4 linked regions of the Homo sapiens genome follow. The protein of the gene in region 4 interacts with the protein of the main gene of each other region in a pairwise test. Each region holds a gene or a part of one and is shown on either strand. Other genes may lie near its edges.

Region 1 (3,500 bases), on a different chromosome or scaffold from region 4:
AGGCTGGGCAAAGAGTGGGTGCTTATCAATAACTGGAGAATGAATCAGTGAAAACACCTGGGAAGGTGCGGTCCTCTTCTTTTAGGAGGAAAACACTCGCAGAGCACCTCTGTGACCTAGGGACAGTGGTGACCTAGAGAGTCTTTTGCTGTCCTCCTGGGGTTTAACAGCCCGGTGGGGGAGAAAGATTCATCTCTAGACAGTGACTGTCCAGAACGGGGCAGGAATGCAGGAGCCCTGAGAGGCACCTGGTCCAGTCTAGGGTTCGGGGCAACTTCCTGGAGAAGGGGGCATTGAAGCTGAGACCTAAAACATAGCAAGTTGGTGGCACAAAGGAGGAAGTGAGAGAAGCAGCAGGTGCAGAAACAGAAGATTAGAGGCACAGTCTGATTCTGATGACTGTCCACTGTTCCCTGGGGCTGGAGCCAGGATGCAAGGAGGTGGCTATTGGGGACAACAACAGAAGGAGTCTTATGGCAGGTGCCAGATTCTTCAAGGCTGGGGCTTAGCTGAAAGAGCCTTCCCTGGGCAAACCATTCCTGAGGCCCCCTCTGTGGCCAACCCTGCCCTCCAAGGGCCCCTGGTCCAGCAGGTGGGACAGACACAGAAAAACACAACCAGACTATCAGCTGCTACCATAAGCCACGGCCACAAGACATGTCTGTGACAGCACACAGCACACTAATCCTGAGGCCAAAACTATGACCAGCTCCATCCGGCTGCTGAGCAAAGGGAGGCTCAGAGAGGTGAAGCCACTTGTCTGGTCACTCAGGAAGGACCGCAGAAGCAGAATGACAGAAGGGAAGGGGGGCAGGCAAGGGAGCCAGGCACGGCTTCCCAGAGGAGGACTCTTCACTCAGACACAGAAGGTCACAATCAGAGACTCTCTGAATGCCAGGTTTGGAAGGGGATGTTCTGCTCACCCTTCACGCACCCTGCTAGCTCCCCAGTCCTGTTCTCATTCACCCCTCCTCCCAGCTGTCCCCTCAGCCATCAGCCTTCAAGAGGCAGGACCAGGGCTATCACAGTCACAGTTAGCTCAAGAGCACCAGTGGCACAGAGCAAGGCTGTGATAAACACCTGTGTGGCCACCGCTGCCTGAAGGACTCACCCCGGACGCTCAGGTCACCCAAACCCACTTCCCTCTGAGGCTCCAGTGTCTGGCCCTCTCCTCCACAGCCCCTAGTCCACTCCTCTGCAATGTTTTCTCCATTCACCTTACCCACCAGATAGCAAATGTCCCAGGAGCATGGTTAGAGGGGCTACATGTGTTAAATGTGTCACTTGTCACCTCCTGTCCCCTTCACCAGCAAGAGCTCTTTCCTGTAATCTCCCAAAGCACAGGACACCATTGGAGGGGCTCCAGGGTCAAACAGACCTCAGCTATAGTCCTGGTCCCACCGTTCTTGGCTGTGACACCTTGGGCACATCACTTCACCTCTCTGACCTGTGGACCAGGTTGTGAAAATACTGGAACATTTTAGACAGAAATCTGGGCCCTGCTTACCCAGAGCTGGGGATCTAGAAGGAAACACACTAGAACGGTAAACAGGATAATTAAAAATGGTACATGGAAAACAAGCAGGGGGAAGTGACAGCAACTGAGTTGGGAACAGGGATCCACTTTGGAGTGGGTGGTCAGAGAGGCCTCCCTGAGGAGCTCCCTTTGACGTCTGGGTCGTCTGGGTGAGACCCTTAGGCTGAGACAGAGAAAGCCACATTCTGATGAGGAGATCTATGGGGCGGGGGTCGGCTGGGGAAGGGAAATCAGACAGGCACAAGGCCCCCTCCTCAAGGCCAGCCTAGCTATTGGGAAATTTAGGGGTCCAAGTATGGGTTTCAATGGGTCTGAGCTGATTTGGGGTCAGGAAAGGACACTTGATGCCAGGTCAGGATTTGAAGCTGCATCTGACTGACTCCCAGGTCTCTTCGCTTACCCGTTAGTGATGGGCAATCTGGCTGGGAACCTTCCCACGGAAAGGCAAGTTAAAACCACAATGAGGTGTCACTTCACACCTATTAGGATGGCTATCAGCAGAAAGACAATCACAAGTGCTGGCAGGGATGTGGAAAAACAGGAACCCTCGTATGCTGCTAGGGGGGAAAGTAAAAGTACAGCTACTTCGGAAAATATGGCAGTTATTGAACAAGTCATATGTGCACCTACTACACAATCCAGCAAACCCATCCTGAATGGCTACCCAGGAGGCAGAAAACATGAAGCCAGACCAGGCGCAGTGGCTCACGCCTATAATCCCAGAACTTCAGGAGGCCAAGGCAGGAAGACTGCTTGAGCCCAGGAGTTCAAGACCAGCCTGGGCAACACAGCAAGACCTCATCTCTATAAAAATACAAAAATTAGCCAGGTGTGGTAGTGCATGCCTGTGGTCCCAGCTACTCAGGAGGCTGAGACGGGAGGATCAATTGAGCCTTGGAGAATGAGGCTACAGTGAACCAGGATCACACCACTGCACTCCAGCCTAGGCGACAGAGCATGACTCTGTCTCAAAAACAAACAGTGGCCAGGTGTGGTGGCTCATGCCTATAATCCTAGCACTTTGGGAGGCCAAGGCAGGAGGATCCATTGAGCCCAGGAGTTCGAGACCAGCCTGAGCAACACAGGGAGACCCTGTCTCTCTTACTTAGAAAAAAAAAAAAAGAAACAAAATACAGCCACAGAAAAGCCTGTACATGAATGTTCATAGCAGCATTATTGGCAACAGACAAAAACTAAAAACAATCCAAATATCCTTCAAGGACTGAAAGAATAAACTGTGTCATGTCTGCAGACTACCACTGAGCAGTGAAAAGGAACAACTGTGAGCACGTACTTTAGGATTTCCCCAAAGGCCAAATTTCCCTGATCCTAGGTTGTAAAAAATAAAATAAAAATGAACAACTGCAGATCTATGTAACAACATGAACCTCAAACCCATTATGCCCAATGAAAGAAGCTGGACACAAAAGACTGGATGTTGTTTAGATCCTTGTTTAAGACATTTTTAGAAAATTACAGAGATAGCACCTCTGTGGCTGCCTAGGATTGGGAGCAGCAGAGACTGTAAAAGGGAACTTTTTGAGGGGACAGAAGCTTTCTCAGACCAGACTGTGGTGATGGCTGCACCACACAACTGCATAAATGGACCAGGAGCCAATGGACTCTATCCTAAGAACAGGTGAACGTTATACCATCTAAATTATACCACAAGGCTGGACGTGGTGGCTCACGCCTGAAATCCCAGCACTTTGGGAGGCCGAGGTGGGCAGATCACCTGAGGTCAGGAGTTCAAGACCAGCCTGGCCAACCTGGTGAAACCCTGTCTCTACTAAAAATACAAAAATTAGCTGGGTGTGGTGGCAGGTGCTTGTAATCCCAGCTACTTGAGAGGCTGAGGTAGAAGAATTGCCTGAACCCAGGAGACGGAGGTTGCAGTGAGCCGAGATTGTGGTGAGAAAGCGAGACTCCGTCTCAGAAAAAAGAAAAAAAAAAAAAGAGTCAC
Region 2 (3,211 bases), on a different chromosome or scaffold from region 4:
TCTGTTTATACCAAATTACTTATACACTTGGTATTTTTCTGCCTATTACAAGTCCTTTTTGTTTTCCAGTACTTTGTGTCTGATTTACCTAACTGCTAAGCCCCAGAAGAAAATTTAAACACTCAATTTTGGCTGGGCGGGGTGGCTCATGCCTGTAATCCCAGCACTCTGGGAGGCCAAGATGGGTGGATCACGAGGTCAGCAGTTCGAGACCATCCTTGCTAACACGGTGAAACCCCATGTCCACTGAAAATACAAAATATTAGCTGGGCGTGGTGGTGGGTGCCTGTAATCCCAGTTACTCGGGGGGCTGAGGCAGGAGAATGACATGAACCTGGGAGGCGGAGCTTGCAGTGCTCCGAGATCACGCCACTGCACTCCAACCTGGGTGACAGAGTGCGACTCCGTCTCAAAAAAAAAAAAAAACCCAATTTTGTTTTCATGCTGTGGATGCAATGGACACCTAATTCTAATGAATAAAACTACTGATAGCTAATATATAAAAGCATAGAAGACACTTTTATTATATAACATTTTATTTAAAAAAATTATTTTCATAGAATACATTTTCACATTAGAGATTCCCATTGTGCGAAAATAACAATTTATTACTTATAGTTTTATATTTGTGGACAGATTGTTTTAGAACAAGTAGAATACATTTGGGAATTAAATCTCAATTTACAGTTGGTAGTATTTTGATACATCTACAGGGAAACTTGCCCTTAAATGGAACTTCTGTATATTCAGAAGCACTCCAAGCGTTTCTTCCTAGGATTTAGAAATTTATAATATGAGCTATCAGCATTTCCTAATTTTAAAATTTCCCTAGTATATGTAACCATCAGTAGGTGGTATCTACTGTCTAGAGAGGGAAGTTTTCGAAAATTAAACACTGTCTAATTTTCTGCAAAGTTTTTATTCATGAATTAAGAGTATTTCCCTTTGTCCATTATTCCCAAGGCAAATATGGAAGTTTGATCATATACTAATCGTAATAAAGTTGGATTCTCTTTAAGAGATTGATAAATTGAAAGGCAAAAGCTGATATATCATGTTTAGTTATACTGTGAGTCTTATAAGAAGCTGGGAGGCAACCCCATTAACTCACCAGAATATAGAACTCAGTCTCACAACTTAGATATAATTCCTCTCAAACCTTTTCCTCAAAGATTAAATTCTGAAAATAATCTTGTGATTAAGAGAAGAAGGCTGTCCACCAATGGACTTATCTGTTATTTCTTCCTTATTGTGAGCTTAATGGCATGACAAAGCAGAGGCAAAGAGGCATACATCAATTCTTCAAAGTATGAAGTCAAAAAGGTCAGAGCTTCCACAGCATGGCAACAGCTTTGCAGATGCCCACATCGTGATAGTTGAAATAGCAAAGCCCAGCAAAGGTTAAAGCTGAAAGTGCCAAAAGCCCTGCCTTGGCAGCTTTCTGCAAGGCATCCCCATGAACATAGTCAGTAACAACTTGTCCAAGGCCCCTAAAGAAAAAGAAAAAATCATAACATCAATAAAAAACCACAGTGAAATTAGAAGACTATACAGATAACTTGGCTGCAAAAAAACAATCTGTCAAGTTCAAATGCAATGTCTCCATTTGCCACTCCACTGTCACTGTTTGCTTCTTTAGGGGATTCTGTATAGCCTTTTGCGTGTGTATGTCAGTAAGTCTATTTCTAGTGACTTTTCTTTAGAGACAAAGTCTTACTCTGTTGCCCACGCTGGAGTGCAGTGGCCTGATCATAGCTCACTACAGCCTCGAACTCCTGAGCTCAAGTGATCCTCCTGCCTCAGCCTCCCAAGTAGCTGGGACTATAGGAGCATGCCTCCATGCCCGGCTAATTGTTTTTTATTTCCTTCTATTTATTTATTTATTTATTTATTTATTGAGACAGAGTCTCGCTCTTTTGCCCAGGCTGGAGTGCAGTGGCACGATCTCGGCTCACTACAACCTCCGCCTCCCGGGTTCAAGTGATTCTCCTGCCCCAGCCTCCCAAGTAGCTGGGACTACAGGCGCCCACCACCACACCCAGCTAATTTTTGTATTTTTAGTAGAGACAGGGTTTCACCATATTGGCCAGGCTGGTCTCGAACTCCTGACCTTGTGATCCGCCCACCTCAGCCTCCCAAAGTGTTGGGACTACAGGCGTGAGCTACTGCGCCTGGCCTGTTTTTTATTTCTTTAAAGATGCGGTCTCACCATGATGCCCAGGCTGGTCTTGAACTCTTGGCTGCAAGTGATCCTTTCACCCCAATAACTAAAAATAACTAAAACTCTACAGTATTTTTAATTAATTCAAAAAGAATTTATTAAGTAGATATCATGTGCCAGAATCTGTCATAAATGTTGGGAGTATAGTAAGTGAGACAGCATCCCTACCCTTATGGAATATACTAGTGAATGAGAAGGAAAAAGTAAATATATATGTACTGAGAAGAAACACTTTAGAAAGGAAGACATGAATGAGAACATCCAAACCAAAGTGGCATCTCTAATGAATAGTAAGATTTGTGTGGCTGGAGCACATGGGTGAAGCAGAGATCAGAGGAAGGCAGGGGTCGGTTGCATAGGGTCTTGAAGGTCATGATAAGGAATCTGAATTTTATATGAAATATAATAGGAAACCACTGATACATTTTAAGCAGGGAGTGCCTGAGATTAGGAGTGACCTAATTTTACTATTTTTATAACAGTTTTATTGCAATGTAAGTCAAACGCCAGAAAAAATTCACGCTTTTTAGTATATAATCCACTGGTTTTTAGTATATTGAGTTGTGCAATCATCATTTAATTCCAGAACATTCTCATTACCCCAAAAAGAAACCCTCTACCTCTTAGCCCACTACCCAACTACAAATTTACTTTCTGTCTCTATGGCTTTGCCTGTTCTAGACATTTCATATAAAAGAACCCATACACCACTGGGCGTGGTGGCTCACACCTGTAATCCCAGCACTTTGGGTGGGTGAAGTGGGCGGATCACCTGATGTTGGGAGTTCAAGACCAGCCTGACCAACAAGGAGAAACCCCATCTCTACAAAAAATACAAAATTAGCCAGGCGTGGTGGCACATGCCTGTAATGCCAGCTACTTGGGAGGCTGAGGCAGGAGAATCGCTTGAACCCGAAAGGCGGAGGTTGCAGTAAGCTGAGATCGTGCTGAGCCGAGATCGTGCCGAGCCAAGATCGCACCATTGCACTC
Region 3 (3,500 bases), on a different chromosome or scaffold from region 4:
TATTTTTCTCTTTATCAAAATACAACTTGACTCTGAAGGCCTTTTATAAAGTAGCTCAGTGTTTTCTAAATTGTGTTTTAGAATGCTGGTTCCAAAAAATATTAATAGGGATTTCCTGGGGGAAAGAGGCACAACCAAACTCCAGGATATGCTGGTTTATGCAGTTTGGAACTTCTCTGGTACTTCAAGGTGCTAATAAGGGCTGAATCTAAATGTGGCTAGTGTTTTGTCCTCTCATTTCACAAAACTCCCTTTAGTGGAACATCTCACCTTGTTAACTTTGTGTACCAGGATCACTGCTTTGCACAACTCCAGGGGATGCTGTTCACATACAACACAAAATGAATTGTGTTTCCTGGAGTTGAGAGCTGTGTTGCATACTGTAGTATTGCTGACTGTCCACTGTGTGACGGTCTTAGAGTCTGGTGGTCCCTCATCCTTTTGTTGTGAATGTGTATGTGTTTTTCCTCTCACCTGATAGGACCCTTAGGGGCCAGATGCTGTGCTTGATGCCTATAAGTCCTAGCACTTTGGGAGGCTGAGGCAGGAGGTTCGCTTGAGGCCAGGAGTTCGAGGCTGCCTGGGTGACACAGCAAAGAACCTGTTTACCAAACAAAAAAACCAAATTAACTGCCACATTGAAATTCAGAAGTGGAAAAGTCCTGCCTGTAGAGAAGCTAAATTCTACTGTCCTAGTAACATTCTGTGAAATGTATGTAGCTATCTTCCAGAAATAAAACATTGCCTTATGAACCCATCTGAGTAAGGTTAAAATTCCAAAGGTAAAAAGGTTTTAAAAATCTCCCAGAAAAATTTCCTTAACCTTCTCTGCTTTACTTTAACAGAAGCTACACAATGTCTAAATCCTAAACCAATATGCCAAAAAAAATAGTACCTGAACATTTGCTGGATAAAGTTCTATATATCGTGATATAGAACCCTATATCTTATCTCAGTTCTTTTATGTTATCTCCAAATGAATTACTAAGACAAAGGGATAATAAATGGGAAGTGTACAACCCGGAGGACTTCAGACCAGAAAATCAAAGAGAGATGATGGGAAAGGGTGGAGTAATGCTGAGTTTTGAAGAATGGGCACATTTAGACAGACCAAAGACTGAGCATCATATCATTGCTGCCGTTCCATGAACTGAGAGCAAACTGTTAGATCATGACCTGCTACAGAATCACTAGGCATCAGGAAGAAGAGTAGGTATATGGTCTGTATTAGAGTATAGCAATGGATTATTCTTCCAGCTGCCAAGAAGTCAAGAAGGAAAGCCTGTATTTGACTTTATCATTTCTATTGAATGTCTGAGTGATACATAGAGTAGTAATTTTAGACATTTAAGTAACTAAAGATTTATATAGCTTTAGTATGTAAGCTGTTATATTTAAAAATGCTTGAAAAAATAAGAGTTGTTCTCCAGAAATTATTCATTTTCCTATGATTAGCACAGCTGAGACCTTACAGGTGCACTGCTATTGAGTATTCTCCCAACCTTTTAAATTTTATAGGTCTAATTGTTGGTAAGGTATTGTGGAAGGAGTTCTAAGACTTGCTCCTGCTTTAATTGACGTTGCAATAATAATCATAATAAAATTGTTGGTCAAAGAGTAGCACAGGAGTGGTTTTGGTAGTGAAGAAAATAAAAAGAAATCTGAAGGTAGAGATGAATGGAATCAGCAAAAGTGAAATTGGTTAGATTAGTAAGTTGTTTTTCTACTGGGACACTCATGGATGATACTGACATATACTCCATTCTCCCTTGCTAATATCTAGATTTTTTTAGTACCTCTAATACTAAGAGATTTTTAATTTCTTTGCTATACTTCTGTCCTTTTCTTCTCTATTCATGCTCAAAAGAAAGTAAGTGCTATAACTACTCTTTTTTGTTTGCTTAAAAAATGACTCATGAACTTAAGGTACTTAAGTGTGGACACTCCTGACAACTAATACCATAGCGGAGAACTACTGAGTTAAAGGGTACCAGTGCAAATAGAGGGCTGAAAACAAGGAAGGTCAGTCAGTGAATGGGAAAGAAATATGACAAAGCCTAGGAAAGGGAGCTCCTCTAGCATCAAACTGTCTGCATGTCGAGTCTCAGAAAAACAAGGATTCGTCAGTCAACCCCTTTCTGCATGCACAGTGGATTTAGGGTAAAGTTTATGTTACCCTGTCTTTGGCCGAGCGCAGTGGCTCCTGCCTGTAATCCCAGCCCTTTGGGAGACTGAAGCAGGAGGATTGCTTGACCACAGGAGTCTGAGACCAGCCTGGGCAACATGACAAAACCTCATCTCTACTAAAAAAAAAAAAAAAAAAAAATTTAGCCAGGCATGGTGTCGTGTACCTGTAGTCCTAGCTACTTGGGAGGCTGAGGTAGGAGGATCGCTTGATTCTAGGAGGTAGAGGTTGCAGTGAACTGAGATTGTGCCACAGCACTACAGCCTGGGCGACAGAGGGAGACCGTCTCTGTCTCAAAAAATAGATGACCCTGCCTTTGAGCTTAAGCACTACTGTTTTTATGTACATAATTTAATGCTGGAACTTGATCACCTCCGGCCCTCCTGCTGACAGCATTTCTTTTGCTAGAAATACCCACCTTTCTCAGAGCCTGTGTCTCCTTTGGTTTTGGTTTTTACTCCATGATATGTTAAGGACTCACCAGATTTAAATGTGAAATTTATCTTCACCACTAAAAAGCCCACTTGTCTTGGATAAATCACTTGGTTTCTTTAACTCCTCAAAAAGTACAAAGTCAGGGGGTTTTGATTTTTCTCTCTTGAAAATTTGGCTTTTAACAAAATTTGTATAGCAAAAACAGGTTACCCGCTCCCCCCAAACTTTCAACCATTTATTTCTTTATTCTGTTAGGTTTGCCTTCCAATTTTGTCTTTTAACTACTTTGTCATCATTTTGACGTTTCGTCTGTGATACACCGTGTTTGATTTATGAAGATAAATACATTTATTGAAAAGCTAAATTATCTAAGATTTCAGTTAAACAAGTGGCATATTACTAGCATTTAACTCTGCCTCTTGCCAAACATATACTAAAATGAGAATAAGGGAATTCTTTTTTAAAAAAGCCATAAATCCACAAGGGAGAAGAGAAACCCACACCAAAATTTTAGAAGGCGTTGACTTAGTAGACTTAAAAAGCTGATCTCTAAGTAATAGAAAAGCCCAGAAACAAGTCAGTTTATAGAATTCCCTGAGAGCTCAAAGCTGGGAAAACATGGGACCCATGGTGAAGAGGGGACAGGGGGGCAAAACGGGAGAACTGGTTGAAATTTTAGGAATTTGATACCCAGATATCTTTCCCTCTGTCTGTACTCTGTGATCTCTTTTCCTTCATCCTTGCAGAAGGCTGGAAGCTTGCTTTCTGGAGAAGGCTATGCACACTGGGAATACAGTTGAAAACCAGGGTACCACACTCAAAACCGAGTGTTTACCTATTTATGTTAAGATCACCAGTCTTCTTCCCTCACCCAGCTTTC
Region 4 (3,393 bases):
TGCTTGAACCTGGGAGACGGAGGTTGCAGTGAACCAAGATCGCACCACTGCACTCCAGCCTGGGCGACAGAGTAAGACTCCATCTCAAAAAAAAAAACAAGTTATTTTTATGGTTTGTTTGAATCAGGATTGAAACAAGGTACACACATTATATGACTGATATGTCTTTTAAATCTTCTACTCTATAAATTTCACCTCCACACCTTTTTTTTACCTTTGTTCTTCTTCTTCTTCTTTTTTTTTTTTTTGAAGAGATGGCATTGTGCTATGTTGCCCTGGCTGGTCTTGAACTCCTGGTCTCAATCAATCCTCCTGCTTTGGCCTCTCAAAGTGCTGGGTATTGAAGGCATGAGGCACTGTGCCTGGCCCTCTTTCTTATTTTTTGCCTTATAATTTATATTTTGTAAAAAACAGGTCCTTTATCCTGTAGCAGTTCCCAGAGTCTCAATTTTACTGACTACATTTGTGGTGTTGTTTAACACTTTGCCCCCTTCATTTCCATTAATTTGGTGTTGGATAATTTCCACAATAACTGCACCAGTTGCTCAGTCTATAACACTAATCAAGCACTGAATCCAACACCAAATTAATTTCCAGTATGTTACTTTCTAATTGTTACATACATTGTCATTCTAAGTTAAGTGGCCTGTGAAATCAGTGTTAAAGAATAATAACTGGCTTTTTATAATAATGGAATAGAATACAATAGAAAGTATCAGTGCACCCTATGTAATAAGAATAATTATTATTTTGTGAAACGTTTTTCCACCATGGATATGTGTATTGGGAACTGGGTTAGTATGTGGAATATGGTTCTTAGGGGTTATGGTCAAATATTTGAAGAACACTGTAATATGTAGGAATTTTTTTTAAATTTAAAAACAACATATGTTCTTTTTGAAGAATTATATAAAAAAAATAGAACCACTAGAAATAGGACTATCCTAAGCATATTAGTTTCTTGTGGCTACCATAGCAAATTGCCATAAACTGATGATGTAAAACAACACATTTATTCTGTCAGTTCTGGAGACCAGAAGTCTGAAATCAAGGAATTGGGGCCACAAGCCCTCCAAAAGCTCTAAGGGAGAGTCCATTCCTTGCCTTTTCCAGCTTGCAGTGGCTGCTGGCATTTCTTGGCATTCTTGGCCTGTTCCTTGATGTGACTCCAATCTCTGCCTCCATTCTCATGTCACTCACTCCTCTGGCTTCTCCTTTTCTGCGTGTTGCAGATCTCTTTCTGCTTTTCTCTCTGTTTTGTTGTTTGATACAGACTTTAACTCTGTCGCCCAGGCTGGAGTGCAGTGGCGCAATCTTGGCTCACTGCAACCTCCGCCTCCCAGGTTCAAGCAATTCTCCTGCCTCAGCCTCCCAAGTAGCTAGAACTACAGGCGCCTGCCACCACGCCCGGCTAATTTTTGTATTTTTAGTAGAGACAGGGTTTCACTATGTTGGCCAGGCTTGTCTTGAACTTCTGACCTCGTGATCCACCCACCTCAGCCTCCCAAAGTGCTGGGATTACAGGCGTGAGACACCACGCCAGGCCTCTGCCTTTATCTTAGAAACGACACTTGTCATTGGATTTAGGGCCCGCCTAGATAACCCAGGGAGATCTTCTTATCTTAGGATCCTTAATTCTATCTGCAAAGACATTTTTGCTAAATAATGTTCACAGAGTCTGGCGATTAGGACATAGACTTCTCTTTTGGGGGCACCACCTTTCAACCCACTACACTAAGTGAAAAGTGAAATATTGATCTCTACATCCCCCAACACTCCACCCAGGCTAGCATCCCAAATAGGGAAGCATTAAGATGTGAAAAATTCTGCGGAACATTAGTGTAAAGCTTCTAGTGGAAAAATGATGACCAAGCATAACATTATGAGATAAGAGCATGAGTAGGTTTAATATCCCCCTGGTATACGGCAGTGCAAGTATTGCCCTGTCTTCTCTGCTTGGTGAGGCCTACTTTTCCCCAGAATTAGAGTAAAATTATTCAGTATCCTTATATTGTCCTTACTTACTCCTGCAGGTTCATGAATACTTAGGGGCAGAATGTAGGGAGGACATGCCATTCATTTCTTTGTGGTTTTTAGGTCAACTTCATAATATAAGAGAGGGATAATAAGTTAGCTTGTCATGCTACATGCTTGAAAGTCTGTCATCAGTACAGCCACCTATCCAGGCCAGACGGTTTCCCTGCCAGTTGGCCTCCATGGGACATTCTCCAGGAAACCAGCACATGAGCAGGGAAAATCCCTGCCATTGTTGAGGCTATCGTTGTGGGTGAAAAGGGAATGTCCCTTGTGGTCCTGGAATCTCCCTGTGGCAAGCTCTGAATAGGGTATGATGAATTGAATAGGCCAGGAAGGATCCTGGCTCAGGGCTAGAGTGGGATAGAAGGCCATTATGAAGTGAGAAATTAGAAAACTGGTGTCAGGATGGGGATCGCTATTTTACACACTTGAGAATTTAGAAAGGAATTACTGCACATTCCTAAACTGATTTTTTTTTTTTTTTTTTGACTGAGGCTCGCTCTGTCACCCAGGCTGAAGTGCAGTGGCATGATCTTGGATCACTGCAACCTCCACTTCCGGGGTTCAAGCGATTCTTCTGCCTCAGCCTCCCAAGTAGCTGGGATTACAGGCGCCTGCGCCTGGCTAATTTTTGTATTTTTAACAGAGTCAGGGTTTCGCCATGTTAGCCAGGCTGGTCTGAAACTCCTGACCTCAGGTGATCCACCTGCCTTAGCCTCCCAAAGTGCTGAGATTACACGCATGAGCCACCATGCCCAGCCAAACCAAATTTTACTAATTGATAAATCAAAGGACTGTTGTTGGTCATGTGATAAGAATAGCTAGAGCTGGGCGTGATGTCTCACACCTGTAATTCCAGCACTTTGGGAGGCCAAGATGGGAGGATCACTTGAAGCCAGGAGTTCGAGACCAGCTTAGTCAACATAGCAAGACCCCATCTCTAAAAAAAAAAAAAATAATAAGTAAAATAAAAAGAATAGCTGGGGACTAATGAGTGTGGACAGTTTGTAAAAATAAATTGAAATATTGTTAGTCTTCTTTATATTCCTAGAAATCGATGCTCCACATGCATCCCACAACTCCTTACAACTCCCCGATACAAAAATACTCACTGTAAGAAAAAAACCCATAAAACCAAACTAAACCAGACAATAGAAATCCCAATAATCTCATTACACAAAGAAAAGCCCCTATAAGCATTTTGTGTAATCCTCTAATAGTACATTTCTGTTTTCATCTAAAGTACTTTCATTTGAGGCTGGGCTCAGTGGCTCACACTTGTATCTCACCACTTTGGGAGGCTGAGGCAGGAGAATCTTAAGGCCAGGAGTTTGAGAACAGCCTGGGCAACATAGT

Evidence for each region. Proteins that work in one complex are often made in the same cells at the same time.
Region 1: the proteins of F2RL1 (region 4) and CLPTM1 interact in a two-hybrid assay, tested with the Homo sapiens proteins (one large-scale study listed by BioGRID and IntAct).
Region 2: the proteins of F2RL1 (region 4) and SDHD interact in a two-hybrid assay, tested with the Homo sapiens proteins (one large-scale study listed by BioGRID and IntAct).
Region 3: the proteins of F2RL1 (region 4) and ATP2B1 interact in a two-hybrid assay, tested with the Homo sapiens proteins (one large-scale study listed by BioGRID and IntAct).

What each region holds. Positions count from the first base shown.
Region 1 is NC_000019.10:44,958,380-44,961,879, reverse strand, and holds part of CLPTM1 (putative lipid scramblase CLPTM1), read right to left. Parts: intron 1-3,500. UniProt on the Homo sapiens protein: Involved in GABAergic but not glutamatergic transmission. Binds and traps GABAA receptors in the endoplasmic reticulum (ER).
Region 2 is NC_000011.10:112,093,084-112,096,294, reverse strand, and holds the end of SDHD (succinate dehydrogenase [ubiquinone] cytochrome b small subunit, mitochondrial isoform a precursor), read right to left. Parts: coding exon of another isoform or gene 3,098-3,211; exon of another isoform or gene 3,086-3,097; intron 1,491-3,085; coding exon 1,325-1,490; 3' UTR 501-1,324; downstream 1-500. UniProt on the Homo sapiens protein: Membrane-anchoring subunit of succinate dehydrogenase (SDH) that is involved in complex II of the mitochondrial electron transport chain and is responsible for transferring electrons from succinate to ubiquinone (coenzyme Q).
Region 3 is NC_000012.12:89,698,839-89,702,338, reverse strand, and holds part of ATP2B1 (plasma membrane calcium-transporting ATPase 1), read left to right. Parts: intron 1-3,500. UniProt on the Homo sapiens protein: Catalyzes the hydrolysis of ATP coupled with the transport of calcium from the cytoplasm to the extracellular space thereby maintaining intracellular calcium homeostasis.
Region 4 is NC_000005.10:76,829,030-76,832,422, forward strand, and holds part of F2RL1 (proteinase-activated receptor 2 preproprotein), read left to right. Parts: intron 1-3,393. UniProt on the Homo sapiens protein: Receptor for trypsin and trypsin-like enzymes coupled to G proteins.